Homo sapiens: one gene and its partners. The protein of the gene in region 1 interacts with the protein of each later gene in a biochemical or structural test. Each region holds a gene or a part of one and is shown in the gene's direction. Other genes may lie near its edges. The genes, in order: EDC4, DCP1B, NBDY and DCP1A.

Region 1 (8,035 bases):
TCTGTAGTGACCCAGACCTGAGTATTCACTGCCCTCAAAGGGTCCTTGATGGCTTGTACCCCTCCCCCAGGTAGAAGAGCCTCATGCTCATCCTTGGTCCTGCCTACATCAGTGTTTATGGAACGAGAGATGAACACAGGGCCCTCCTCCTCATGGACATGCTTTGCTCAGTTGAGTGTTCCTAGAGCACCTCATAGTTCTTGAAGGAAACTCTGAAAGGGGAGAGGCTTGTGGGCAGGTCGAGCAACCTTATCAGAATGACCCTCTTTGTCCCCAGGCCCCAGTGCAGAGAGCCCACGGCCATCCAGTGCCTACAATGGGGACCTCAATGGACTTCTGGTCCCAGACCCGCTCTGCTCAGGTGATAGTACCTCAGCAAACAAGACTGGTCTTCGGACCATGCCACCCATTAACCTGCAAGAGAAGCAGGTCATGTGAGTACCTAGGAGACGACAATAGTGGTGATGGTGTATTTGGGGTGTCTGCTAGCTGAAGGCATGAGATGGGGAGTGAGCGGGGCCAGCAGCCTCTGCTGCTTCCTCTCTAGATGACCTGGGGTGGAGCTTGAGCTTGCACTAGGATGAGAGGCAAGGACAAGCTCAGGGGTTTGGCCTGGATACCTGGTTTAGAATGAAAGTAGGCTCATTCCCAAGGAAGGAGATGAGCAAGCAGAGCTGTGGGTCTGGGGCCAGTGGACCAGGCGAAGCTGACATTGGACTAGATACCTTCCCCAGTCTGGCTATGTCCTCGCTTCCTCCCAACCCTGCCCGCTGAGCCTTTGGGTGAACAAGAGGCAAAGTTTTTGCACTCTTCCCCACAGCTGTCTCTCAGGAGATGATAGCTCCACCTGCATTGGGATTTTGGCCAAGGAGGTGGAGATTGTGGCTAGCAGTGACTCTAGCATTTCAAGCAAGGCCCGGGGAAGCAACAAGGTAGGTACTGGGATGCTGTGGCATATATAATGTACGGGGGCACACCCAGCCTTTCCAGTCTCCCTCATGCTGCCAGTTCCTATGGGGACCACCTTGACACTTTCCCAGTTTCAGGAAGCCAGGGCTGGGTGCCAAGCCTCTGTGGGAGTCTGGCTCCAGGAGGTAACAGTGGGTAGCTGGACTTGCATCTGTGTCCTCTCCCATCCCCAGGGATGTTGGGGGCCACCTAGGCTCTGGGGAAGTTCCATGACTTTTCTCACCCTGGGTTCTCAGGTGAAAATTCAGCCTGTCGCCAAGTATGACTGGGAACAGAAGTACTACTATGGCAACCTGATTGCTGTGTCTAACTCCTTCTTGGCCTATGCCATTCGGGGTGAGTAAAGACAGTGAGGAGGAAGGAATGTTCTGCTGGATGTCCCACAGAGCCAGTTCCAACATCAGGCCACTCAGGCCTTAGGGGTACAATGGAAGGTTTGTCCATGCTGCCTCTTGGGGAGCTGGGTGGGAAAACCAAGCTTGAGACTCTGGTGGTGGCAGGGAGACAGGTGGGGCAGCGCTTCTCTGCTACTGCCTGAGCCTGGATACGTATTCATGGTCCACTGCTCTCCTGATTCCAGCTGCCAACAATGGCTCTGCCATGGTGCGGGTGATCAGCGTCAGCACTTCGGAGCGGACCTTGCTCAAGGGCTTCACAGGCAGTGTGGCTGATCTGGCTTTCGCGCACCTCAACTCTCCACAGCTGGCCTGCCTGGATGAGGCAGGCAACCTGTTCGTGTGGCGCTTGGCTCTGGTTAATGGCAAAATTCAGTATCCATTCCTTCCTGTGGGTGGTGGGACTGAAGAAGGGTGGGCGGAGCTGGGGTGTCACGCCTCTTCATTCATCTATCTAGCCCTTAACACCCTGCTCAGAGAAGAGATCTTGGTCCATATTCGGCAGCCAGAGGGCACGCCACTGAACCACTTTCGCAGGATCATCTGGTGCCCCTTCATCCCTGAGGAGAGCGAAGACTGCTGTGAGGAGAGCAGCCCAACAGTGGCCCTGCTGCATGAAGACCGGGTGAGGGGGCTGACATGGCGAAGAGGCGCCAGAGAAGCCATAGTGTGGGGTTGGGCTGCACACTCACCTCCCTGTGCCTTCCAGGCTGAGGTGTGGGACCTGGACATGCTCCGCTCCAGCCACAGTACCTGGCCTGTGGATGTTAGCCAGATCAAGCAGGGCTTCATTGTGGTAAAAGGTCATAGCACGGTAAGCCTGTGACTGCCTGCCTCCCCTGCCCTCCCCACTTCCTCATATCCATCTTCTGTTCCCTATATCCACAGCTGCCCGGGCAGCTTTACTAGCATTCTGCCCGTGGGGACTCTGAGCTCAAATTGGCCCTCACCTGTGCAGCTTTCTCCTTATCTAGCAGCACCCTGCAGGTCTGGCCTTCTCTAGGAACCCTGTTCATTTAGTCAGTCACACAAGCATGCCAGTCCCACCGTGAGTCAGCCCAGCTCATTGCCATCCTCACTTGGGAGGGGCTTGTTCTCACCTCTAGTCAGCAAAGCTTTTTGGGTTCTTTCTAGTGCCTCAGTGAAGGAGCCCTCTCTCCTGATGGGACTGTGCTGGCTACTGCGAGCCACGATGGCTATGTCAAGTTCTGGCAGATCTACATTGAGGGGCAAGATGAGCCAAGGTAAGGCAGGGCCTCAGGGACCAGGATCCTCCCGAGGTAGCCCACCCGACCACTCACTCAGGCCCCTCATCTGCCTACCTGCAGGTGTCTGCACGAGTGGAAACCTCATGATGGGCGGCCCCTCTCCTGCCTCCTGTTCTGTGACAACCATAAGAAACAAGACCCTGAGTGAGTGAGTGGGCAGCCTAGTGGGTGGTGGGCTGGACCATGGCTCCCAGCAGGGGCCCCAGCCAGTCACTCACTGCCTTGTTGCCTTGCAGTGTCCCTTTCTGGAGGTTCCTTATTACTGGTGCTGACCAGAACCGAGAGTTAAAGATGTGGTGTACAGTATCCTGGACCTGCCTGCAGACTATTCGGTAAGCAGTGGCTGGAAGGCTGGGGGACTGGGCAGGGGCGGCAGGGTTGGGAATGTAGCTTCCTTCAGTTCTCAGGCTCATTCACTCTGCTTTGTGGCTCTCTAGCTTCTCCCCAGATATCTTCAGCTCAGTGAGTGTGCCCCCTAGCCTCAAGGTTTGCTTGGACCTCTCAGCAGAATACCTGATTCTCAGCGATGTGCAACGGAAGGTAGGCTGCCATGGGGTACCCTGGGCAGAGTTGGGATTATAGAGGAAGGCCGGGGGGCAGGTGGCGCATCACAGCCCTTAGCCTCTGAGCTCAGCTAGGAACGTTCTGCCTGTGCAGGTCCTCTATGTGATGGAGCTGCTGCAAAACCAGGAGGAGGGCCACGCCTGCTTCAGCTCCATCTCGGAGTTCCTGCTCACCCACCCTGTGCTGAGCTTTGGTATCCAGGTTGTGAGTCGCTGCCGGCTACGGCACACTGAGGTGCTGCCTGCCGAAGAGGAAAATGACAGCCTGGGTGCTGGTGAGCTGCCTCAGGGTCAGAGCTATGTGTCCATATATCTAGGGGGTTGTGGAGGCACAGAGAGGGCCAGGGGCTTCATCATCCACACTGTCCTTTCAGATGGTACCCATGGAGCCGGTGCCATGGAGTCTGCGGCCGGTGTGCTCATCAAGCTCTTTTGTGTGCATACTAAGTGAGTGAGTGGGGAGGCCCGCCAGTGTCCTGTCTGTGTCTGTCTCCACTCTACTGACCCTTGCCCTTGGAGCACTTTATTCTCCCCCTTCTTTTCCTGCAGGGCACTGCAAGATGTGCAGATCCGCTTCCAGCCACAGCTGAACCCTGATGTGGTGGCCCCACTGCCCACCCACACTGCCCACGAGGACTTCAGTGAGTAGGGCGTGAGAGGGAGGTAGGGTAAGTTGGACTGACCAGGGTCTGAGATCTAACTCAAGTGGCAACTTGCCCTGCAGCATTTGGAGAGTCTCGGCCCGAACTGGGCTCTGAGGGCCTGGGGTCAGCCGCTCACGGCTCCCAGCCTGACCTCCGACGAATCGTGGAGCTGCCTGCACCTGCCGACTTCCTCAGTCTGAGCAGTGAGACCAAGCCCAAGTTGATGACACCTGACGCCTTCATGACACCTAGCGCCTCCTTGCAGCAGGTACTCTCCCAGGGTAGGGGGACCTGGGAATGCCTCAGCCACAGGCCACAGGTCTTATTTCCTGCATCTCCCCAGATCACTGCCTCTCCCAGCAGCAGCAGCAGCGGTAGCAGCAGCAGCAGCAGCAGTAGCAGCAGCTCCCTTACAGCTGTGTCTGCCATGAGCAGCACCTCAGCTGTGGACCCCTCCTTGACCAGGTGAGGCAAGGGTCAGAGATGGAGGATGGCAGGGGCTGGTACCAGATGATGCCAAGCTCTGGCTGCTGACACCTCAGCCTTCCCCCACCAGGCCACCTGAGGAGCTGACCTTGAGCCCCAAGCTGCAGCTGGATGGCAGCCTGACAATGAGCAGCAGTGGCAGCCTTCAGGCAAGCCCGCGTGGCCTCCTGCCTGGCCTGCTCCCAGCCCCAGCTGACAAACTGACTCCCAAGGGGCCGGGCCAGGTGTGTGACTGGGTGTGTGTGTGAAGTGTGGGGAGCAGGTGGGCAGCAGCAGGGAAGGTGGGTGGTGGGCTCCTCCCAGCCCCCTGCTGCTGATCCTGCTCTACCCGACATGGTCCGTGTTTCCCTGAGGTCATTTCACCCTCCTGTGTTTCCTGGTGGGTGTCTCCTCAGCCTCCCTGTCCCCACCTCCTCTTCTTGGCTGTGGCCTCGTTTTTGACCTGTATCCCCACTTCCCTGCTGCCCTGTCTCTCATTACTGCTAATACTAATGCCTCGTCTCTGTGCCCCCCATCTCTGCCTCACTTCCTGTCACTTAAGCCCCCATCTTTGGCCCACCTCAGGTGCCTACTGCCACCTCTGCACTGTCCCTGGAGCTGCAGGAAGTGGAGCCCCTGGGGCTACCCCAAGCCTCCCCTAGCCGCACTCGTTCCCCTGATGTCATCTCCTCAGCTTCCACTGCCCTGTCCCAGGACATCCCTGAGATTGCATCTGAGGCCCTGTCCCGTGGTTTTGGCTCCTCTGCACCAGAGGGCCTTGAGCCAGACAGTATGGCTTCAGCCGCCTCGGCACTGCACCTGCTGTCCCCACGGCCCCGGCCAGGGCCCGAGCTCGGCCCCCAGCTCGGGCTTGATGGAGGCCCTGGGGATGGAGATCGGCATAATACCCCCTCCCTCCTGGAGGCAGCCTTGACCCAGGAGGCCTCGACTCCTGACAGTCAGGTTTGGCCCACAGCACCTGACATTACTCGTGAGACCTGCAGCACCCTGGCAGAAAGGTGAGGAGCTTGGGAGGGGAAAAGTGTGCTAGCAGGAGGGGCTTCAGATAGATTCATCCATGGCTAAGTTGGCCTGTCCTCCCAGCCCCAGGAATGGCCTTCAGGAAAAGCACAAGAGCCTGGCCTTCCACCGACCACCATATCACCTGCTGCAGCAACGTGACAGCCAGGATGCCAGTGCTGAGCAAAGGTGGGAGCCACTCTACACCATTGCCCTCATGGGGGGATGGGCAGCAAGTGGGCAGGGGCTTACTCCTCCTTCCCCTTCCCACAGTGACCATGATGATGAGGTGGCCAGCCTTGCCTCTGCTTCAGGAGGCTTTGGCACCAAAGTTCCTGCTCCACGGCTGCCTGCCAAGGACTGGAAGACCAAGGGATCCCCTCGAACCTCACCCAAGCTCAAGAGGAAAAGCAAGAAGGATGATGGGTAGGGAGAAATCCTAGGGAGGGAGAGGGTGGTCTCTAGGCTGCCTCACATAGCCTGAGGTGCTTCTCGCCTATGGCAGGGATGCAGCCATGGGATCCCGGCTCACAGAGCACCAGGTAAGTGAATGAGCCCACTTTGTACTTGTGGAACTTCACCCTGGGCGGGTGGAGAAGGGCTCTGGGCCATTCCCTGGTCTGGTGTGTGGGAATAGGTGGGGCAGGCATCGTGTGACTGTCAGTGCTACTGACAGGTGGCAGAGCCCCCTGAGGACTGGCCAGCACTAATTTGGCAACAGCAGAGAGAGCTGGCAGAGCTGCGGCACAGCCAGGAAGAGCTGCTGCAGCGTCTGTGTACCCAACTCGAAGGCCTGCAGAGCACAGTCACAGGCCACGTAGAACGTGCCCTTGAGACTCGGCACGAGCAGGAACGTATCCTTGAGACTGGTAGCACAACATGGCATAGGGACGGGGGCAGCATTCTTGGCCTGGGAAGGAGTACACGACCTGCTCCAGGCCCGTTCCTTAGCTATGGCGCAGAGCGGCGGCTGGAGCGAGCACTGGCTGAGGGGCAGCAGCGGGGAGGGCAGCTGCAGGAGCAGCTGACACAACAGTTGTCCCAAGCACTGTCGTCAGCTGTAGCTGGGCGGCTAGAGCGCAGCATACGGGATGAGATCAAGAAGACAGTCCCTCCATGTGAGTTTTGCATGCAGACTCCCTTTGGGTGGTTCAGGTGGGAGTGGGGTACCTGTCAAGCTTCTTCTCATGGCTCCACCTCACCCTCTTCCCCTCTCCCAGGTGTCTCAAGGAGTCTGGAGCCTATGGCAGGCCAACTGAGCAACTCAGTGGCTACCAAGCTCACAGCTGTGGAGGGCAGCATGAAAGAGAACATCTCCAAGCTGCTCAAGTCCAAGGTGCTATAGGGCCCAAGATGTGGGTGGAGGTGGTGGTTCCTGGGCCTAGTCAGGCCAGGCTGGGCTCAGGCTTTCAACTTGGCCCCTCCCTCTAACCCCAGAACTTGACTGATGCCATCGCCCGAGCAGCTGCAGACACATTACAAGGGCCGATGCAGGCTGCCTACCGGGAAGCCTTCCAGAGTGTGGTGCTGCCGGCCTTTGAGAAGAGCTGCCAGGCCATGTTCCAGCAAATCAATGATAGCTTCCGGCTGGGGACACAGGAATGTGAGTGGGGTCATATGGCCCAAGGTGGGAGGGGTTATCCTCTTTCCTACTGTTCCTCTTATAGTCCCTGTGGTCACCCCTCAGACTTGCAGCAGCTAGAAAGCCACATGAAGAGCCGGAAGGCACGGGAACAGGAGGCCAGGGAGCCTGTGCTAGCCCAGCTGCGGGGCCTGGTCAGCACACTGCAGAGTGCCACTGAGCAGATGGCAGCCACCGTGGCCGGCAGTGTTCGTGCTGAGGTGCAGCACCAGCTGCATGTGGCTGTGGGCAGGTGTGTGGGCAGAGTACTGGGCAAGGTGGTGGGCTTGAGAAAGGCCAGACTAGGCTCCCTGTCCACTTCACCTCACTCACTTCCCTTTGCAGCCTGCAGGAGTCCATTTTAGCACAGGTACAGCGCATCGTTAAGGGTGAGGTGAGTGTGGCGCTCAAGGAGCAGCAGGCCGCCGTCACCTCCAGCATCATGCAGGCCATGCGCTCAGCTGCTGGCACACCTGTCCCCTCTGCCCACCTTGACTGCCAGGCCCAGCAAGCCCATATCCTGCAGCTGCTGCAGCAGGGCCACCTCAATCAGGCCTTCCAGCAGGTACGATAGGCATTAGGCCCTGCTAAGGGTCACGTGTCTCTTGACAAGGCCCACATACCATACATTCTACTCCACCCACCACCTTTGCACCTTCTGGCCCCAGCAGACTGTTCTTGGTTCCCTTTGGCCTCCAGGCCATTGTCCCTGCTGCTTCCTCTTCCTGGACCCCTTTCTTCCCACCTAGCCCACCTTGCTTTACAACTACCCTTCTCAGGAACCCATTTCCCAATCCCCTAGGGTAACTACACAGCCCTACAGGCTCTCTCTGAGTCCCTCTGGAGCTCTCACTAGCCCACCCTGTGGTCATCCTCCCCCAGGCCACACAGTTCAGACAAGCAGACATTCCATCCTGATATTTGCTATAAACACTGCTGCTTTTTTCTCCTCCAGGCGCTGACAGCTGCTGACCTGAACCTGGTGCTGTATGTGTGTGAAACTGTGGACCCAGCCCAGGTTTTTGGGCAGCCACCCTGCCCGCTCTCCCAGCCTGTGCTCCTTTCCCTCATCCAGCAGCTGGCATCTGAC
Region 2 (8,590 bases), on another chromosome or scaffold:
ACTGTGTATTTGTGTTTTAAAATTGTGATGATATAGTCAATCTATATTTGTATGCAAACATTCATTCATGCCTACAAAACCAGTTTTCAGTTATATTCTGATTTTCAAAGAATCTAAACATACTGTCTTCTTACAATTACCTTAATTGATTAGATGCTGAATTTTGTCTTACTCAGTCATTGCCATGGTATAAAAATTCCAGACCCAAACATTATTTTTTTATCATTCTACAAACTTGTTTTAAATTGCAGTATCCAACTTTGTAAAACCAAGTGTGAGCATATGTTTAATCTCATAATGACAATTATAATATAATCATGAAACTCGAAGTCACCAATATTTGTCCAAGGTATCATCATGAGGCTTATGGAAACACAGTGGAAGTACGCCAGCACTCTGGGCGCCAACAGAAATGGAAGTTACACGGATTAAAAAAGAATTTGCCTATTCGAAATGGTCTTTTACTAATATCGAGCCTGCAACTTAGTATATTTGGTTAAGTGATGATGACCTGGTTTTACAAACACAGATTATTCAAATAGAAAGAAGGCAGAAGGCTGGCGTCATCCTAGAAGGTCAGAGCTTTAGGCCTTTGTGGGGAGGAAAAAAGAATAAAAAATAAATAAATCTCTGTGGGCCAGGGAGATGAACAATATGGCAATGCTGAAGTCATTGCAACATTATTTATCTTTTTTCTCTGAGTATGATTTCTAATCTTCAAGAGTTTTTTGTTTGAAAGTTAAAAAACCAAAAACCTTTCCATGTTTTTCTATCTCCCTTAGAATATAAAATCTGAGAGAACAGGACTTGCTATTGCACGTTTTTTTATCCCAACTTGGATTTCATTATTTTATAAATCATGAGCTCTTTAAAAAATGCTGACATTTAATGAGTAAATTCAACTAACTCAGGGTTTAGTTCAAAAGAATAAGCATTTATTGAATCTCTATTATGTACAAGGCATTGGACCAAGTGCTAGGGAGACTACGTGGTGATAAGCACATAAAAAATAACATCTCCATCCTGAGCAACGTAGTGAGACCCCATCACTACAAAACATAAAAAGTAACATCTCCATCCTGAGCAACATAGTGAGACCCCATCACTACAAAACATGAAAAATAACATCTCCATCCTGAGCAACGTAGTGAGACCCCATCACTACAAAATATAAAAAACATTGGCCGGGCATGGTGGCACCAGCCTGTGGTCCCAGCTACCTGGGAGGCTGGGGTGGGAGGAGTGCTTGAACCCAGGAGGTCAAGTCTGCAGTGAGCTGTGATTGTGCCACTGCACTCCAGCCTGAGCGACAGAGAAAGACCCTGTCTCAAAAAATAAATAAATAAATAAATAAATAAGTAAAACTTTATGAAACATACTATTTCCTCCTTTTTGCTTATCTGTCAAGAAACTCAAAGCCCAATTTCTTGTTCAATTGCAATAATGTTTTCAGGCTAGATTTTCTATAACAATTCTCTTTTATTACAATGACTGTTTTTTTTTAGAATTGGAAAAAAATGTATATGTAACGTAGTAAATAAATAAGTCTAAGTCAGGATAAAGTGAGCTAAGTGCCACAAGAAAAATCGCAACAGAATGCAATGAGGATTCATAGGCTGAAAGGATTGTATGGGAGAAGACAGGAGGTGAGTTTTCCAGGAAAAGGTCATTCCAAGCTAAGAAGACAGATGGGCAAAGGTACAGAGATAGGAATGTGTAAGATACTTGGGAGAAAAGAGTTCAGATACAAGGAGGTTAGAACAGAAGATGGGTTGTTTCATTAACTCTAAACACACAAAAAATTAACTCTTCTCTACTAAGGGTCATATTAGCATGTTGTTCACATATGTGAAATTTTCCCCGTAAGCAAAGTAAGGGTATCTTCATCTTACTCATCAGTGAGATCAAAGACTGGAGAAGACATGACCATGTAATTTCAGCACAGACACAAGAAGCAATAATAAATCATGAAGAATTAATGAATTTCATCAAGTGAGCACTCCATAAATGCTTTGCAATTGTAGTCATACAGATCACTAAGACTTGTATACACTTTTGTTTTATGAACATTTAAGCTTTTACAATGGCCCCTATATTGCCTGTCTTCTCTAATGAGCTCAAAGCAATTCGTTCTTTGGAGGCCATGATCTATTCTTTACACTTTAAAGATGGAAAGACTGAAAAATTATGAGGACAATGATCTGTGTAAGGATCATGGAACTTAACAGACAAAAGAAAAACAATGCCTCATTATATGTACGAGGGAAATGCAAAGTAGAATCTGTGGGTTCATGCTGAAAAATCAAAATTAGAACAGCTAATCAAGTGAGAGAGTGTGACTAGTTCAAGAATTAATCACAAAATTCTCCATTGCCCATATTACAGATTAAACTTGTTTTTAGAAGCACATATGTGATTAAGAGCAAAGAGGTCAGTAACACTGGAAAAAGGTAGTGAACTAACATGGAAAGTTGTCTAGTCAGCTTTGTGTGGTTGCTCAGTTGCTGCAGCCCTATGTTTTTCAAACTACAGGTCACAATCCATTAGTTGGTCATGAAACCAATTTACAAAGTCACAAATAGCATTTTAAAAAATGTCTGTATACTTAGTATTGAAACATTTATTCTAGTTAATATCAGGTATAAATATATAAACATATGTTCTCAGTCAGACTGCAAATGACCCCAGCCTCAGTCAAAAAAAAGTTGTTTGAAAGCCATTGCTGTATTCTTCCCCACTGGGAAGTTAGGCTTGGGAGTCAATAGGACTGAGACTCCAAAATGCAGCTTAACCAAGAATTTCAGTACAATTGAAATTGTGACTGCAAAGATTATATTGCAACATATTATTATGAGAGGGTATGTGTGCCGTATCTATGATATTTCTATATCAAATAGGTAAGAATTTATGAATGTGAGTAGTAATGTCTGCACAGTTGTTCTAATATTTAATGCTAGATAAATGGTTTAGATCAACCATTCTCAACTTTTTAGTCTCAAGACTCCTTTACACTCTTAAAAATTATTTTTTTAATTACTTTTTATTTATTTTATTTTTGAGATGGAGTCTCGCTCTATCACCCAGGCTGGAGTGCAGTGGCAGGATCTCGGCTCACTGCAACCTCTGCCTCCCGGGTTCAAGCGATTCTCCTGCCTCAGCCTCCCGAGTATCCGGGATTACAGGTACCTGCCACCACTCCTGGCTAATTTTTGTATTTTTAGTAGAGACGGGGTTTCACCATGTTGGCCAGGCTGGTCTTGAACTACTGACCTTGTGATCCGCCCGCCTCAGCCTCCCAAAGTGCTGGGATTACAGGCAGGAGCCACCGCACCTGGCCCACTCTTAAAAATTATTAAGGACTCCCTCAGAGAACTTTTGTTTATGTGAGTTATACCCACCTATATTTACCATATTGGAAATTAAAAATAACTTTAAAGACCCCGGGCTATGTGTGTTTTGTTTGGAGTATATGAAGAAACTCTGGCCTCATATGTAGATAATGTAGTTGGAAAAGAGATGGATATTTTAATAGAGTTTTTCAGACAATTGTGGATATTCTTCTTGGATAATATACCAAAACTTGACAAGCTGGAGTTTCTCAAAGCTTAGCTGCAATGTACTATCTGAAATCCTATTAACTTTTCATACTGTTACATTAAAAATCCATTAGTCCACCTTGTCCTTGAATGGATCTTTTGCCTGTGCATGATTATGTAGCATGAGACATTGGTCTTTTGGAAAATACTGGACCACTGAGTTAAGCAGATCTTTGAGATATTGACACTTTCCATTATACAAGATTTGTTAAAATTGCGCTCATTAATATCATCACTGATCTCATCAGAAAAAAAAACATTAAGTACTGAGATGTCAAGCTCATGGCAGTAGATACACATTTTCTAAACTTTTAATTCTGGCTTGAAGGCTTAAAAATTATCATTGGCAGCAGTAATTGTCCCTTGTTTTCCTGAAAGTGACAGGCACACTTTATTTATTTTCAGAAAAATGTCTGTCAAGTACCTGTTTGAATAATCATAGTTTGCCCATCTTTCTTTCAAGTAAAAATGTTTTATGAAAATAAAAATAAAAACATGAATTCGGCCTACAACTCAAGCACAGAAGTATTTTCCTAGAGACAAATATGACACACTTCATTTTGCAGCAGACGTGCTTTATGCCTATTTCCTATTTTTTCATGCAGAATGTTAAAAAGAATTGTACCCAAGGATTAAGCTTCAATGAAATTAATAATTCTTACTGCTTATCAAGAACACCATCAGGTGACACTGGCTCTCTACCTTCTTCTTTTTTTTTTTTTCTTTTGTAACTGAGAGTGCAGATTAGTGACGCGTACTTTGACTAGCAATACAGTTTGGTGCCCCTGCCTTGATTGGGTTAAACCACCGGCGCTTTTAACCACCATTGTCTGCAAAACGTCACCACAGTGAACAAGTCAAATAAGTAAGTCTCAGCATTGTCATAAAAGGTTTTGTTTTTTTTTTGACCTTGCAGATCCCCTGAAAGGGTCTCAGAAACTCCCAAAGGGTTCCAGGACCACACCACACTTTGAGAACCACTGGGTGTTAGCGCATTCAGAAATCAATTCAGTTCTCTTTCTCTTCAGAGTTCTTGATGCTCGAGGCTTATTTATTGTGATAGATTTGATCACTGAAGCGCCAAAGAAAAGATATGCCAAGGGGTCGAACACATCCAAGAAGGAAATCCTACCGCACACACAGCTCAAAGGCTCGAGCGCGTAGAAAAACAGCTCTTGGAGAAAGAAACGGGATGCAGAGGGCAGGCCTGGGCTTGTCGTTGCCAGTGGCAACGATCCTCAGTGGGCGGGGCGCGGCCATCGATTAGTGAGGCCTTGCGTCTGTCGGCGGGCAGGAGGGTGGGGGTGACTGGAGCCGGAAGGCCTCCCGGGCCGTGTGGTCGCCGTGGGTTCTCGGTTGCGAGGCAGCTCGCTCGTTCTGCGATCTATTGAGAGTGGCTTCCAAGAGCCCCGTGCCTATGTCTGGGAGGGAGGGAAGATGGCAGCCGTGGCGGCAGGCGGCCTGGTGGGAAAGGGGCGCGACATCAGCCTAGCGGCCCTGCAGCGCCACGACCCCTATATCAACCGCATCGTGGACGTGGCCAGCCAGGTGGCTCTGTACACCTTCGGCCATCGGGCCAACGAGTGGGTGCGTGCGGACGCGGCGGAGCAGTGCAGCCCAGGGTTGGGGTGGAGGCGGGGGGCGTCAGACTCAGGACTTGAGGACCCGGTGAGGGGGAGGAGACGTTGACGCCCTGGAAGTGGGTGGATCTGGGGACTGAGGCCGAAGTTGTGGAGATGGGGTCTCGGGGGTTTGGGGGAAGGAAGGCGGATCTGTGGAGCTACCTGGAGTTGGGGAAAAGACTTAAATCTCTAACGTACCCAACGCTGGGAGACCAGACCGATCGGGTACGGCACCATAAGAGCCGAAGGAAAGGAAGGACCTGATACCTTATGGCCGGAAGACCGATGTGCTCGAGAAAGTAGAGCAGAGTTCTGTTACAGTGAATCTGTGGCTATGGGGGAGGCAGGGACAGCAGACGAATAAAAGTGCAGAGTTCTGATTTTGGAATGTCAGTCTTAGATGGGGCAAAGAGAAATCAAAACTTGATAGAAGGGGAGAAATCTGCAAGTTGTAAACTTAAGGGGAAACACCAAGAAAAGAGCCAACCTCGTCAAATAAAAGACAAAATGGGGCAGGGTCTAACACTTAGAAGGAAGCTGATGCTCTTGGGAAGATTATTACACGGCAGCACACCAAGTTCGATATTGGAGGTCATTTGGGAGCCAAATTATTTTAGTGCTCTTCTCAAAGCAGAGTCCCAGTAAATGGTAATGGAATGAAATTTCATTTTCCTCATAGTTAGAATGGGGTAGAAGCCTAGAACACTGGAATCCTGTTGCAGGGATTGCTGCTTGTAATTTTGTAACCCACCCACTCGAATGTAGAGACATGTAATTTTGTTTCTTTACTCATAATGAGTTTTGTCCAAATAATATTCATCATCCATTATGTATCACATACATGATATCCATCATTTTAAAATAAGTTACAAAACAGTATGGAGAACTTAGCCTTGATGAATGGATTTCAGATAAACTTTTTGTGTTCTTCAAGTCGGTTGTATAAACATCAAAACTTAATCTAGGAAAACATCCATGTTGAACAACTCTGTATTTTTTTTAACACCCACATTCATAAGCCTACTTATCTGCAGTATAGTTCAGCAGCCTGTAGTAAAAAACTCACCTGAAAATCATTAACATAAAAATAAAAAGACAAGCAAGAATGGGGTAGACAAACAGTTTTGCCCAAAGTTCTTAACGGAGGAAATTTGCCGGAATGGGGCAAAGAATTTAGGTCTGCTCTCCTAGTAGCCAAACACAAAAGGAGAACAGGAAGAGCTCTTTAATATTCGTTCTTCTGTAATAGAAAGTGTACCTCTTGATCAGGAGAAAGAGGTTATTTCCCCCTAGTTTCCAGGGGAATTTGTCACCTACTTTTTTTGTTTGTTTTTGTTTGTTTGTTTTTTCGAGGTGTCACCTTCGTTTTTACATAAAGAACATTGAGCAACATAGACAGTTTCCTCCATGGTAATTAAAAATATATAAAAAGATATTCTACATATGGCTATTTTGCTGCTCTGTAGAAAAATGCTAAAGGTATAATGTTATAATCCTGTAAAAGTAATTCCGTAGTAGAGAGATGAGGACCAGGGATGTATAGTTCTGTAAGTTGACTTGACACTGGGATTCGAGTCTGGAGAATCCCAAGAAACTGTCAGTATAAAGAGAGTAGAGCATTTCTCTTGAATAATAGTTGTTTCCTATAGGCTTTTGACCCTTATCAATGTGATAGATACCTTTTTAAGATAGTTACAGATGTTTATTAGATACCTAAAGCCTCATCAAAAAGCAGATGTGTCACAATGCATTAATTACAGGAGTTATGTTTTCCTGCTTGCTGGATATGTTGCCTTCAGACAGGGCATAATTCATTCAGGAAAAGGTCATTCTTTCAAAGTTCTAATCTTCAAGGCTGTGGTAGCCAGAAAAACAGAGAGACCTAGTTCAACTGCAGAGCAGTTGCTGGAGGCAAACTAATTATGACCACTGTCTCCATGTGCTGTCACTGTGGATGGGAGCCGTTTGAATGTAAACCTAATAAGAATATGAGAACATTGTTGAGAATAGAGGAGAAAGTATTTACAAGAAGGCAGGGGGGATCTTAAGGAGGGGAATTCTTATTGCCCTGAAAATGGATGAAGAATGACTTCAGCCTTTCAAAGGAGGAGAAATTAGGAAGGAAAGGTGTCTAGAAAATGAACTGCTTTAAAGAAGGATTAAGAAAGATTATGTGATGACTGGAATAGGAATTTTAGAGTTAGACCTACTCCCTGTTGCCAGGAAAGACTGCCCCCCGCCTCCAAAATATTAATACCTATGTGTCAATTGAAGACCATAACCCTGGTATTTTCCAGCTGTCAGTCCTTAGACCAGTGGCTCTCAGCTGGAGTTGATTTTGCCCCCAGGTGACATTTGGCAGTGTCTGGAGACGTTTTTGGTTGTCACACTGAAGGGAAGAGTGTTGTGACATCTATAGAGTAGAGGCCAGGGAATGCTGAGCCTGAAAACTGCCCTAAAGTGACTAACGTTGTGTTCCTAGCTAGTGGTTTTCTAAGTTTTTGGTGTATCCAAATAAGTCAGAGTTTTTTAAAAGTGAAAAATGCCAAACTAAAACCTCTGGATAATGAGACCCAGGCATTTCATATTGTTGAAAGCCTCATAGGTGACTCACGTGCTACATGCATGATGAAGAGAGATTTGGGAGGATAAGTTGAGACCTACTTTTTGATTATTTTAACTGAGAATAATCAAGTTAAAATAGAGATTGCGTTGAGCTAGTTTGTGTCAGACAGTGTGCAGAGTCCCCAAAATTTGCAAAACAGCACTATTTTATATTCCATTTTGGGTTTTTTAGTATTTTGAATTCTGAATTGCTTATTTCTTTAGCACTTGTTAGATTTTATAATACAGTATAATATTAAATCCTCAAATTGTACTTTTAAAATTTAAGCTAAAATACCCCAGGACTGGTAACTAATACTTTCACATAAAAGTCCTCCTTAAAGGATCTAAGGAACATCTAATCTTGTTTTAGCTATTCTCCACATCCCTAACCCTGGACTTTGCTCAGAAAGAAAAAAAAAATCTGGTTGCCCTTGGATAACTATGGAGGGGCCAGGAAAATGCGTGAATTTGGGCAGCTGTAATAGAACAGAAATGTATATTTTCAAAGTCTCTTTTATCCAGGTGTCATAGAGCGCCTGACGTTTTTTCATCAAAAGATCTGAGTAGTGTAAGCTGATTATCTCTCTTTTTTTTTTTTTTTTGAGACGAAGTCTCGCTCTTGTTCCCCAGGCTGGAGTGCAATGGCGTGACCATGGCTCACTGCAACCTCTGCCTCCTGGGTTCAAGCTATTCTCCTGCCTCAGCCTCCAGAGTATCCAGGATTACAGGCGCCTGCCACCACTCCTGGCTAATTTTTGCATTTTT
Region 3 (8,086 bases), on another chromosome or scaffold:
CTGACTTCAAACTATACTATAATGCCACAGTCACCAAAACAGCATGGTACTAGTATAAGAATAGGCACAGAGACCAATGGAACAGAATAGAGAATCCAGAAATAAACCCGAATACTTACCCCCAACTGATCTTCGACAAAGCAAACAAAAACATGAAGTGGGAAAAGGGCACCCTAATCAACAAATGGTGCTGGGATAATTGGCAAGCCACATGTAGGAAAGTGGAACTGTATCCTCATCTCTCAGGTTATACAAAAATCCAATTAAGATGGATCAAGGACTTAAATCTAAGACCTGAAACTATAAAAATTCTAGAAGATGGCTGGGTGCGGTGGCTTACGCCTGTAATGACAGCACCATGGAGGCCAAGGTGGGTGGATTACCTGAGGTCGGGAGTTTGAGACCAGCCTGACCAACATGGAGAAATCCTTTCTCTACTAAAAATACAAAAAATTAGCCGAGGGTGGTGGCGCATGCCTGTAATCCCAGCTACTCGGGAGTCTCAGGCAGGAAAATCGCTTGAAACCGGGTGGCAGAGGTTGCAGTGAGCCGAGATCACGCTATTGCACGCCAGCCTGGGCAACAAGAGCAAAACTCCGTCTCAAAAAAAAAAATGTATATATATAGAAGGTAACATTGATAAAATCCGTCTATACTTTGGCTTAGGCAAAGAATTCATGACCAAGAATCCAAAAGCAAATGCGACAAAAGCAAAGATAAATAGGTTGGACTAAATACAAAGATAATAGGTGGGACTATTAAAACAAAAGCCAAGATAATAGGTGGGACTATTAAACTAAAGAGCCTCTGCACAGCAAAAGGAAGAGCGAACAGAGTAGACAGACAACCCAGAGAGTGGGAGGCAGTCTTCACAATCTATGCATCTGACAATGGACTAATACCCAGAATCTACAATGAAATCAAACAAATCAGTAAGAAGAAATAACAAAAAATCCCATCAAAAAGTGGGCTGAGGACACGAATAGACAATTCTCAAAAGAAGATATACAAATGGCCAACAAACATATAAAAAACTGCTCAACATCACTAATGATCAGGGAAATGCAAGTCAAAACCACAATGTGATACCACCTTACTCCTGCAGGAATGGCCATAATCAAAAAATCAAAAAAATAATAGACGTTGGTGTGGATGCCATTGAAAAGGAACACTTCTACAATGCTGGAGGGAATGTAAACTAGTATAAACACTATGAAAAACAGTGTGAAGATTCCTGAAAGAACTAATAGAAGAACTACAATTCGATCCAGCAATCCTCCCACTACTGCATATCTACCCAGAGGAAAAGTCATTATACGAAAAAGATACTTGCATATGCAAGTGTATAGCAGCACAATTCACAATTGCAAAACTATGGAACCAGCCCAAATGCCCATCACACGAGAGGATAACAAAATTGTTATACATATATATATATATGTGTGTGTGTGTGTGTAACAATATTGTTATATTGTTATATATACATATAACAATATTGTTATATTGTTATATATACATATAACAATATTGTTATATTGTTATATATACATATAACAATATTGTTATATTGTTATATATACATATAACAATATTGTTATATTGTTATATATACATATAACAATATTGTTATATTGTTATATATACATATAACAATATATGTATATATACATATATAACATATATACACATATATACACATATACACATATATACACATATATATAACATATATACATATATACACATATACACATATATGTATATACACATATACACATATATGTATATATACACATATATGTACATATATGTGTGTACATATATGTGTATATATACATATACACATATATGGGTATATAGACACATATGCATATATATATTTATACATATATACATATATATGTATAAATATATACATATATATGTATAAACATATACACATATATGTATAAATATATACACTATAACAATATTGTTATATATATGTATAACAAAATTGTTATATATATGTATAACAATATATGTATAACAATATATGTTATATATATAACAATATATGTATTGTTATATATATATAACAATATATGTATTGTTATATATATATAACAATATTGTTATATATATATGTATGTGTGTGTGTGTGTGTGTGTGTATATATATATATATGATTGAATACTACTCAGCCTTAAAAACAAACGAATTAATGGCATTTGCAGCAACCTGGACGGAACTGGACAGTATTATTCTAAGTGAAATAACTCAGGAATGGAAAACAAAGCATCGTATGTTTTCACTCATAAGTGGGATCTAAGATATGAGGACGCAAAGGCATCAGAATGATAAAATAGACTTTGAGGACTCAGGGAACGGGTGGGAGGGGCATGAGGGATAAAAGACTACAAACTGGGTTCAGTGTATACTGCTCGAGTGATGGGTGCACCAAAATCTCACGAATCACCACTAAAGCACTTACTCATGTAGCTAAATACCACCTGTTCCCCAAAAAACCTATAGAAATAAAAAAATTTAAAAATTAAGAAAATTTTAAAAAGAAAAGCTAATTTTCAAAAGAAATCAAATTAATCACCCAACTTCTCAATTTAAAAAACTAAATGAAAACCATTTACTATCACTCAGAGGTGGGTTTAGTTTTATTTTCTATTGTCATCTTTTGATCATTGTAAATTATGAGAGTTGGATCTGTAGCACTTCTCAAATTGGCCTCTATGTTCCTCCAACCTAACAGTGCCCTCTTCTGGCTTCATGATTCACATTCAGCTGGTTCACTGATGTTGAAAAAAAAAAGATGATGGAAAAAAAACCTGTTTTGAAACCTGGAATAATAAAGGCTTTAGATCTCCGTTTTAATATAATGAAAACAAACAAAATTCCAGTTGCAAGTATAATGGTGGTTTCCAGCAGCTGGAAGGAGGGTAAAATGGAGAGTTGTTTGATAGGTATGGAAAAGTTCTCGAGATTGGTTGTACAACAATGAGAATATACTTTACCTTATTGAACTGTACACTTAAAAAATGTTAAGATGGTAAAGTTTATGTTATGTATGCTTTACCACAAAGCATATAAACAAATAAATAAATAAATCTAATTGTGGTATAAATAGTCAATGTTGATAGAAGCAACTCTAAGTTGGGACTGTTTTCACCTCAAGTCAAATGTTTACCGTAAATTAAACCTAGCTGGAGTTGATAAAATTTTTAATTCCTGTTACTTTACTAACGAGGCACATATTTCTCTTAATTTGCTAAAACTATAGCTATAGAACGACTTAACTGCAACTCTTAATGTCTTTAGTCGTGAAGATTTAGAGACCTATGTAAAAAGACTGTGAAATTGTTACTTCATTTACTTGAATAAATAATAAAATATTCTTCAGTTTCTAAAAATAAAGACTCCAAAGTTTGACTTGTATATCTGAGTGGAAGGCATAACATTTCACTGAGATGAAAGAAAAAAAAAACTAGGAAAGGAGCAAATTTGGTGGATTAAGGATAGACCAATGGTTCTCAACTGGGGACAATTGTGTACCCGAGGGGACATCTGGCAATGTTTGGAAATCTTTTTGGTTATCACAACTTGAGGAGTAGGGAGTAGTACTGGCATATAGTTGGTAGAGGCTTAGCTTAGGACATTGCTAAACGGTAAACTCTGGCAACCACTACAAAGATTGATTTGGCCTCAAATGTCAATAGCACCAAGATTGAGAAACTCTGGGTTAGAATCTTCTTCGCTGACTTTGACCACTCTTTCTCAGCCTTTGCAGCAGACTTCTTTTCTTCTATCTGTCTCTAATTACTCAATATTCTGTTTTTAGCTCAATTATTTTTCCTTTAGATTTTCTCTTGGGGATATAATCCATTCCCTTGTCTTTAACTATCACCTCTATGTTGCTGTCTCCCACATCAGTATGTCTAGTTCCAACTACTCTTCTAGCTCTAAAATATTGCCTCTCTCAATGCCTCCCTCACATCTTTTCATTAAGCTACAGCTACATCTGACTTTTCTGTCTTTATTAGTAGCATTTGGCACAAAACCACGGGGTCATTTATTTCCCAAATATTTACTGAGTACCTAATTTGTGTAAAGGGCTGTGCTGGTTACTTGGAGGAAGGTAGAAGGGTGGAGATAAGAGATAGTTATAGTAGTAAATGCTTTACATGTATTATCCCTGGTTATGGAAACACCTTTGCAAGGAAAAAATTATGGCCTAGAAACCAAAGTTCCAAGAATTTAAATAATTACTCAAAGAGCTCAGAGCTTGTAAACAGCAGAGTTTAACAGGCACTTCTACTCTGGCATTAAGGACTAAGCTCTCTCCATTTAAAAAAACAAAAAACAAACAAAAAGCACTGAGAACAAAGCTGAAGAAGTGTGATCTAGTTTGTCCATAGCTAAAGGGAGATGGATGTGTAGGCTATTTTAATAATGAAGGTCTAAGAAGTTCCAGAAGCCTTTTCTTCTGAGACACGTGGTACTTTCTTCTGGTTACCATAAATCATAGAATATAACATATCATCACTAGTAAGATGGGTCATTATTTTCCATACCTACAAGAAAGAAAAAAAAAAGCTGCCAACTAAAGTATAGTGTACCATCAATTGTTAGGTCGCAGAGATTTCCTAGATATTCAAATTTGGGGAAAAACATAATAAGCCTTCAAAAATTACAAATTTGCTTAAAAAATAAAGAAAAAATGATCTTAGATTCTATGACATACGGTGAATTCATTTTCCACATTCAATTTCCATGGTTTGTGCTAGTGTGCTATTCTGCACTCTAGTCAACTTACATGTTTGCATATTGCTTTTTAAATGTTTGTAGCTAGTTTCACAGCTCTGTGATGTGCATCTGCAGCTGGCTTGTAAAGCTCTTCAATAATTTATTTGGTTACCGCCCACCCCCGCGTCCCTCCCACACATATAAGCCATTCAGAGTTTACCACTTAAAGGTAAACTTGAATTTCTTCTCATCTTAAAATTGCATAAATTATATTAAATTCTCAATAAATTTATTTACATTTAGTGGGGGTGGGGCGCGATGGAAAAACACTATATTAAATAACGACATCGGTTTTTAACACCCATCCTAATAGAAACATTAAAATAGAATGGGGTAGGGAGGAGGGGTGGAGGCGGAGAAGGGATGTACGTCTCAGGATACAGGAAATACGGTAAGAGCGAAACAGGAGGAAGCCAGCTCTGTGCCTGGAGGGGACTCGCCGCCATCTCAGGTCTCTTGGCTTTGCCAGGGCCCACCGGAGAAAACTGACGACCCGTTTCTGTAATCCTTATGGGAGACCAACCTTGTGCCTCCGGGAGATCCACTCTCCCACCTGGAAACGCACGGGAAGCCAAGCCTCCAAAAAAGCGCTGCCTCCTCGCTCCGCGTTGGGATTATCCGGAAGGAACTCCCAACGGAGGTAGTACCACTCTACCCTCCGCACCTCCTCCTGCATCAGCCGGCCTGAAGTCGCACCCTCCTCCTCCGGAGAAGTAGAGAAATAAATTTCTCCCACCCTAAACCAGGTCAGATTCTTTCTCATCTAGGACATCTAGGCTCTTTGAAACTTATTTATGCATTCTCACAAATTTCCTTCCCCTTTTCCCTGTTCTTTCCATGATTTCAAAATAGAAAAAATAACATGCAGGGATTAAGCAGCTCTTTCACAAAATATGCTTGAATGAAATGATGGATATTTAACGACATTAAATAATTATTTGTAATATTTTAGATGAAATAATTGTAGTTATATTTTCTAAGAAATAGACTTGAATCTTTTGATTTGCTTGAAAGTAAGTCATTGGTGCCAAGGTGGAGGGAAAGTGTAATAAAAATGCTCATGAGTTGATAATTTAAAGCTGGGTGATGTATATGTAGGGATTTATTATATTATTCTCTCTACTTTTGCGTGCATTGGAAAATTTTTTTGTTAAAAAAAAAAAGGCTGGTTCAAGGCCAATAAAAAGCATCTGTTGAAGGCCAGCCTTCAGAAGTGTATGTCTTTCTCTGTGTAAGGCAGGAGAGTTGAATTTTTTTTTTTAAAGCTACAATGTGATAGTCAAATCCAAGTGCCATAATGTTTGCTTGTTCAAGGTATTCAGGAAGGGTGGAGGATGGACCAAGTCACTGCCTGGTAGTAATCATGAGCCATCAAAAAGGAGGAGTAGGGGGGCGGACGCGGTGGCTCACGCCTATTATCCTAGCACTTTGGGATGCCGAGGTGAGCAGATCAGGTCAGGAGTTCGAGACCAGCGTGGCCAACACGGTGAAACCCCGTCTCTACTAAAGTTACAAAAATTAGCCAGGCGTGATGGTGGACGCCTGTAATCTCAGCAACTCGGGAGGCTAAGGCAGGACAATCATTTGAACCTGGAAGGCAGAGGTTGCAGTGAGCCGAGATCGCGCCATTGCTCTCCAGCCTGGGCGACAATAGCAAAAAACTACGTCTCAAAAAAAAAAAAAAAAAAAAAAAAAAAAAAAAAGGAAGGAGGAACTTTGGGTGGGCCTTAAAGGTTGAGTGACATCTGCCATGTGGAGGGGCAGGGAATGCTTTTCAGGCCGAGGGTTTCCAGAGAAAAGGCAGAATTCTTCTGGAAACAGCTTGGCTATAATTTTGAATCTACAAGAAGGACTAGGAGGTGAAGATAAAGTGCTTCAGGGCCTTAAATGTTATGCTGAGCATATACTTCATTCCAATATCCATCAAGTGCTACTATTTGTATTTTAAGATTCCTATTCTTACTATCAGAAAAGGAATCTCTGATATTTAGATGAACTTTATAGAATGCAAATTATAAAACTGAATCTGACCCAAGTTTTATAGATCCTTTTAATTCAAAGGAGAGAAGCATCTTTTCTTCATTCGTGCAGTAAACCTTTATGAAGCCCTTGCAATGGGTAGGAATTATTCTGAGAGCTGTAGGGGATGGATGGCCAAGGCATAGTGCCTAGTACATAATAGGAGTGAAACAGATATTTCAATAAATAAATCAATGAATGATGGGACAACTTTGGCGACCAAAAAAGTTTTAGACATTGGGTTTGGTGGTAATGCATAGAAAAAAAAAAATAGAAATCTATTTTACTTGAAAGCATCTCCCTGTCATTCCATACAGTTTTACTTCTCACATGTTTACCTCTATTCAAAGGGGTAGTGGAGTGGAAGGTTGCAGGGAGTAGGGAGAAAATTGCTCAGATAGAAAACAAAAGAGCAGCCGGGCGCAGTGGCTCACGCCTGTAATCCCAGCACTTTGTGCCGCTGAGGTGGGCAGATCACCTAAGGTCAGGAGTTCGAGACCAGCCTGGCCAATATGGCGAAACCCCATCTCTACTAAAAGTAAAAAAAAAAAAAAAAAAAATAGCCGGTCATGGTGTTGTGTGCCTATAATCCCAGCTACTCGGGACGCTGAATTAGGAGAATCGCTTGAATCCAGGAGGCAGAGATTGCAGTGAGCCGAGATCATGCCACTGCACTCCAGCCTGGGCGACAGACCGGGACTCGGTGTAAAAAATAAATAAATAAATAATTTTAAAAAATAAAAAGGAAAAAGAAAAGAAAACAAAAGAACAAAACAATAAGTGCAGTAGCTACATAATTTCCCCTCCAAGTGATTCAAATCACTGATAATTGTAATAATAGCCAATATTTACTGAAGATTTATGTGCCAATTTTCTAAAGGGCTTTGCATGTTATAATTTATTTAATCACAACTCTACTAGAGAAGTTTGTATAGACCAAGGGAAGTTGTATGACTTGCCACAAGTTACACAGCAAGAAGTAGCTGAGCTGAGCTTTGAACCCAGAACACCTGATTCCAGAGTTTATGCTCTAAACTTCTATATAATACATCCCTTCTAATACTATGTATACAACTGTTTTATAGGAATAAATCATTGAAATAGAGGTATGGGAAGGATAATGATTTGAGGAGACCAAGGGACAAAGAGATGGACAAAAACAGAAAAAATGATGCCACAATATTTTTTACTATTTTTCAGTCTTTGAGTGATTGCAGTATGACTCCATTTCCCTGGTGCATTCATATAATAGTTCACCTGGTGAAAACAA
Region 4 (5,615 bases), on another chromosome or scaffold:
CTGTGGTGGTTGGACTTGGCTTCCCGTAATGATTCTAGGACATTCTTACATAAATGGGCTGGTCATCCTTTAGCTAATGGAAGTTTATAACCAGATGTCAGATGTTCACATGTTCCTACTGAATGTTTACCTGAACTCAAAATAGTCTGTCTCTGTGCTCCACTCTTCTGCTGCTTATGCCTGTTTCCACATGGTCCCTATTCTGGGCCTGGCTACTGGCTTCTGCACTTCGGTACAAAATGACCATTGTCACTCTCCAGGTTGCAGGCGCCCCACTGGTTACTGCAACGACCACTGCAGTGTCTTCAGTCCTGCTGGCCCCAAGTGTTTTCCAGCAGACAGTTACAAGATCTTCGGACCTTGAGAGGAAAGCCAGCTCCCCTTCTCCTCTAACTATTGGAACGCCAGAAAGTCAGAGAAAGCCTTCCATTATTCTCAGCAAGTCTCAGCTCCAGGATACATTAATACATCTAATAAAGGTATGTAGGATACCAATTTTATCTTTGATTTTTCATTATTTAATGAAAGAAATTTTATAAATTCCTCTTACAGAATCAGTTCATAAAGTAAATTCAAAAGACTAGCTGGAGGCCAGGCAAAGTGGCTCACACCTGTAATCCCAGCACTATGGGAGGCCAAGGCAGGCAAAAAAAAAACAAAAACAGACTAGCTGGGAGTACTGTTTCTCTTTTTTTAAGCATACAGTCCTGGTGGAGAAATATCTGCATGAACTCAAAATATTAATCATGATTGTCTCTGGGTGGTGGGATTATCAGTTATACAAATCATTTATACAATTTTTTTCCTAAGCTGTTACCAAGGAAGTAAAATCTGATGAGGTAAATGTGGCATTCGTATCCTTAACCTTTACCATCTCTTCTAGAATGATTCCAGCTTCCTCAGTACACTTCATGAAGTCTACTTGCAGGTTCTGACCAAGAACAAAGACAACCACAACCTATGACTGGAGCAGAATAAGTCTAAAGGCAGAGCCCCAGCCTCAGAGACAAATAGGCTTCATCATGGAAACTTCTGAGCAGAACATTGAGTTTGAGAATCCTGAAATTGAGCCTATGAGAAAGAGACTCATTTCTTAAGAATGTTTTCCAAGTGACATTCTCAGTGATAATGGAGGTTTCACTGTGAAGCATCACCAGCAGATCCTTGTTTTGACAAAAAAAAAAAAAAAAAAAAAAAAAAAGAGAGCGATCATTGTGTTAAGTTATGTGGGTGTTTTCATCAGCTAGGAGCAAGGCTGTGGAATAAGGAGTCAGATTCTCAGCTTGCTTTCACTTTCAAGGACTTACAGAGGAGTAGTCACCAGCCTCACAGCAGAAGTTCAGCCCGGCCCCCACCGCTTCCCCCAGCCTACCCCATAGAAACGGGCTTTGGGCTGACAAGTCAAGTTTTGAACAGAGTAGAAGGCAGCTCTGCAAAGTAGCTTCTAGTTTTTAGGACCAGAATTTAAGCCGGCAAATTAGGAATTATTTCCTCAAGTGAAGTATATTTTATATGAATGCCCCATTTGGGCCTTAAAAGTTGTGAAATTTCTTAATAGCATTTTGTTTTTAAGTGCCCCAGTCCTGCCCTGCAGCAGGCCCCCAGTGCAGCATTACCATTTGAATAGGGCACTGTCAGGCTCTGGTGGTGTGGACACAGGCATGTCATACCTTTGAAGGAAAGGCTGGGGCTGGGAATGCCCACATCCTATCAAATCTTCATTTTAGGTTAAACTCTCCATTGGTTCTGAAAATGCTAAGTTTGTGTGTGAAGCACAGCCTTATTTTCCTTTTCTGTCATTGTTGATTGTTTTCCTTAACACTTTGACAAAAGGACCAGTGGACCAATCTGACAAAGCCATTCTGGTTCCTTTCCTTGAGTGTACTGAGAATAGTTTTAAAGCTATGCAGAAAAGGGAGCTGTTATTCACACTGCCCTTATTTTGTTGTAGAATTATGGAGTTAAAAGAAAATGTGATTCCGAACTCTACCAATGTATTCCTAGGCTGTGAGTACTTTCCCGGCCCAAAGTGTGAAAATATGTAAAGAAGCTTTGTTATGCTGCTATTGATCTGCCATGATTTCTATTTATTCTTTTATGGCATGTAATGGTGTTTAGTAATATTTTAATGTAGATTTTGATTTATTTCAGCAATAGTAATTTTAAGATATTCTTTGAATGAAAGTGTCTTCGTTTCTATGATACAGGTCATTTTGTAGTATTTAACCAATTAAGATGCACTGCTTACTTTTCTGAGCACTATTTAATGATGGGGTAAAAACCCAATTGGCTCAACCAGCTAGCATAAGGATTAGCTGTGAATAATGCTGACAGATATGATGGTTCCTTAGGAACAATCATTTAAGCTTTAATGGTAACTCAATCATAAGTCCATAGATTATTTTTTTCTAGCTAAAATTTTAGAAAATTACTTGTGAATTACATACTTGTTTTAGTTTGGTCTTAGTTTTTAGCATAAAGAATGATTGGCTTTTGTTGATCTAAACATGCTTCCTGGACAGGGTTTCTGCTTCTCATTTTAGTGTCTTCTATTGCTGTCTACCTAATTATGTGTGAATTGTGCAGAATTCAGGGAAGCTTATAAGTTTTCATGCTCAATTGTGAATAGTTTGTTTTCACAGATAGTATGTAAATTAAGCAACCAAAAATGAATTCCTTATGCATCATCTGGGAACGAGAAAGCTATAGTGGGATACAGAGTGTTGCTGACACCGGGAGATGGTGTCCAGGGAGCCACGTGACTTCCATAAAGTGGACGCACCAGTAGGTGTGATTGCACCTCAAGTGTAGTCTCAGTGGGCTTCGGTGAACAGACGAATCAAGGGATTCTTGAATCGAAATTATGCTTTTGAGTATGTAATATTATGAGAGAGTTAAGAGAGAATATCCTAAAGAGAGTCTGTGATCATACTAATTTTCACCTTTAATGCTAGGAATGGATATGATAGACAGTAAAGAGCATCTATGATAAGGCTTCCTTAGTGTGAAAGTAAACTTAAGTGCCCAAGTCATGGAGACTTGAAAAGGGTAAACCTGTTTCACCTCCCAAATTTATATATTCAAAGTATTTACTTAAAATTCAGAAGCCAGAAGTTCATGTCATGATTACCAGGAAGTTCAGGCCAGAATGAATCCCTAGAGAAGCCAGGCCAAGCCTGGATAATTGCAGCTGGATGACCCTGGCCCGAAAGTCACAGTTCAGTTGCCTTATTCCTAGTTCAGGCTTACTATCTAGAACCTCATGCTAGCTTAGGTTGCATGTTTACATTGCTGCAGTGTCTTTACTGGAAGCTTAGTTGGATCGAAATGGACACCGAGATGGAGATGCTTCTGGCTAGATTTCGCAGAACCCCAGGAGACCTGCATTTAGACCACTCTGTCCATTTGTGTGCCCACCCCCACCCCCAGGGTCTAAGTGTAGACTCCAAGAGGAGCAGCCCAGAGCTTGGAGGAGAGGTGTGTCTGGGGCACCACTGGTGGGTGGTGCTGCTCTTCTTTTTGTTGTAGTTAATGCGGTGTCTTTTAATGGACTCTCAGGCCTCCCAGACAGCCTTGTTCCTTTAAGGCAGAAGCTCTTCTTCATTGTGTACCTCCTGGGATTCATGAGGTGTGAGATTTGGCCTGCTTGACTTTGAATTCAAGTTTTTCAAGTGACTCTCAGTGTCAGAAGAAGCATTTCATGCTGTCCACATGTGGTATGTCCACAGCTCACCTTCAAAGGCTTAGATGTAGCCATCACAGAGAGTGGTATTTTATTAAGAACCCAAGTCCCAGCCTGACCAACATGGTGAAACCCCATCTCTACTAAAAATACAAAAATTAGCCGGGCGTGGTGGCACGCGCCTATACTCCCAGCTACTTAGGAGGCTGAGGCAGGAGAATCACTTGAACCCGGGAGGCAGAGGTTGCAGTGAGCCAAGATCACACCACTGCACTCTAGCCTGGGCGACAGTGAGACTCCACCTCAAAAAAAAAAAAAAAAAAAAAAAAAAAAAAGTCACGCTGGGCCCCTCTCTACAGGGGGACACACAGGCTTAGTTTAGTATATGTCTAACCAGATTTTGCATGTCAAGCATTTGTCCTTTTCCTGGCTTATGTTTTCTTGTAGAAATTATATAAACCCTATCAAATCCACTACTAGGTAAATTTTTAAACCATGCAGCTTTATTACTCTCCTCCCCCAAAGAATGTAGTTTGAAATTTTCTCATTTCCATAGTAGAGGCCCTAACTGCCATTGTATTACTAATAATGCAACATGAAATTGAAGGTGCCTAACTGCTCAAAAAACAAAATCAGCCATCATACTGTAACTCTGAGAGGAATGAGAGGTGGCACAGGCACGAGTGGGCTCAGCCCGTGTGAGTGAGGAGAACTGAGGAATCCTAGGGTGCGCATCCTGCATCCTGGCTGCACGTTTGCTGCAGAGTATGTTTTTCTTTCTTGCCTCCCTTCAGTTTTCTTCAGTTGCGTTCAGTGTATCTTCTGGAACCAATAGTGCCCTGTGTTCTCAAGTCTCTAAAATGCTAAGATCTGAGCAAAGTCAAGCAGCTTACACTAGGCTTTTTTACAGCTGTGCTTGAGAACATTTCCGAGTGGACCAGGGCCTTGAGGAGCCTGTTTTTCAGCAAATTCAACAGATGTGTGCAGTGATTCCCTCCGTTTTGTATTTGACACCTTCATTTAAAATGCTAAGATGCAATATCATTCACTTCAAAGTGGGGAAAATGCAGAATTGTGTTTCCTTTTTATCTGTGTGATTCCTTAAGAAACATGTTTTTAAAATATGTGTTCTAAATGGTTTTTTATTCTGTATTACTGCTTTGGCCATGTGGCTCTCATGACTTTCATTGTACCAGATTCTCAGCTCCCTGAAACATGGGGACGAGAAGCTCTGGAATTACAGCAAGATTTTTGTTCCATGAGCGCAATACTGTATCATTAACATTTTTAATGGTATGGATTTTATAGCATCTGTGTATGTTTGCAAATATTAAGTTATTACATGTTTTAAAATGAGCGTTTTTCATCTTAAATTTTATATGTTTGCAAATATATTTTTTTAATAAAATTTCAAAACCAAGTTTTAGCACCTACTAAAATTTAATTGTGTTTTTATTTAATTTGTAGAAATAGGGACTTTTGAATGAGTTGCACTTTTGCAGAGTGCCATACTGGTGAAATGGGATGAGGCAAAAAAACAGAACCGACAAAACTGTTATCAGATCCTTTTGTACTTCTTAAGCATAAGGATTAGGTGTTCACACACAGGTGTGAGATGGGCCATCCTGAAACATTGCTACAATGTCGGCATATTACCTGTCTGACACAGAGAAAAAAGAAAACTGTTATCTACCTGTTTCCAGCCTGTATAGTCAGGGTTCTCCAGAGAAACAGACCTGAGAGAAGATAGAGTTATGTACCATGTGATATTTCAGTCAACAACAGACCACATTTATGACAGTGGCCCCATAGAATTACAACCCTATTTTTACCCGACCTTTTCTGTGTTTAGATACACATATACTTATCCTTGTGTTACAGTTGCCTACAGTATTCGTACAGTCACATGCTGTACAAGTTTGCAGCGTAGGAG

The links.
Region 2: the proteins of EDC4 (region 1) and DCP1B form a complex in vitro, tested with the Homo sapiens proteins (one study listed by BioGRID).
Region 3: the proteins of EDC4 (region 1) and NBDY form a complex in vitro, tested with the Homo sapiens proteins (one study listed by IntAct).
Region 4: the proteins of EDC4 (region 1) and DCP1A form a complex in vitro, tested with the Homo sapiens proteins (one study listed by BioGRID).

Annotation. Positions count from the first base shown.
Region 1 is NC_000016.10:67,875,668-67,883,702, forward strand, and holds part of EDC4 (enhancer of mRNA-decapping protein 4), read left to right. Parts: intron 1-277; coding exon 278-434; intron 435-820; coding exon 821-932; intron 933-1,205; coding exon 1,206-1,305; intron 1,306-1,549; coding exon 1,550-1,739; intron 1,740-1,841; coding exon 1,842-1,989; intron 1,990-2,073; coding exon 2,074-2,178; intron 2,179-2,498; coding exon 2,499-2,608; intron 2,609-2,692; coding exon 2,693-2,776; intron 2,777-2,868; coding exon 2,869-2,964; intron 2,965-3,069; coding exon 3,070-3,172; intron 3,173-3,289; coding exon 3,290-3,470; intron 3,471-3,569; coding exon 3,570-3,642; intron 3,643-3,744; coding exon 3,745-3,836; intron 3,837-3,919; coding exon 3,920-4,107; intron 4,108-4,182; coding exon 4,183-4,304; intron 4,305-4,395; coding exon 4,396-4,549; intron 4,550-4,889; coding exon 4,890-5,323; intron 5,324-5,408; coding exon 5,409-5,513; intron 5,514-5,597; coding exon 5,598-5,750; intron 5,751-5,829; coding exon 5,830-5,866; and 14 more. UniProt on the Homo sapiens protein: In the process of mRNA degradation, seems to play a role in mRNA decapping. Component of a complex containing DCP2 and DCP1A which functions in decapping of ARE-containing mRNAs. Promotes complex formation between DCP1A and DCP2.
Region 2 is NC_000012.12:2,000,875-2,009,464, reverse strand, and holds the start of DCP1B (mRNA-decapping enzyme 1B), read left to right. Parts: upstream 1-5,007; 5' UTR 5,008-5,033; coding exon 5,034-5,183; intron 5,184-8,590. UniProt on the Homo sapiens protein: May play a role in the degradation of mRNAs, both in normal mRNA turnover and in nonsense-mediated mRNA decay. May remove the 7-methyl guanine cap structure from mRNA molecules, yielding a 5'-phosphorylated mRNA fragment and 7m-GDP.
Region 3 is NC_000023.11:56,724,047-56,732,132, forward strand, and holds the start of NBDY (negative regulator of P-body association), read left to right. Parts: upstream 1-5,196; 5' UTR 5,197-5,307; coding exon 5,308-5,514; 3' UTR 5,515-5,543; intron 5,544-8,016; 3' UTR 8,017-8,086. UniProt on the Homo sapiens protein: Promotes dispersal of P-body components and is likely to play a role in the mRNA decapping process.
Region 4 is NC_000003.12:53,282,929-53,288,543, reverse strand, and holds the end of DCP1A (mRNA-decapping enzyme 1A), read left to right. Parts: intron 1-260; coding exon 261-479; intron 480-883; coding exon 884-964; 3' UTR 965-5,115; downstream 5,116-5,615. UniProt on the Homo sapiens protein: Necessary for the degradation of mRNAs, both in normal mRNA turnover and in nonsense-mediated mRNA decay. Removes the 7-methyl guanine cap structure from mRNA molecules, yielding a 5'-phosphorylated mRNA fragment and 7m-GDP.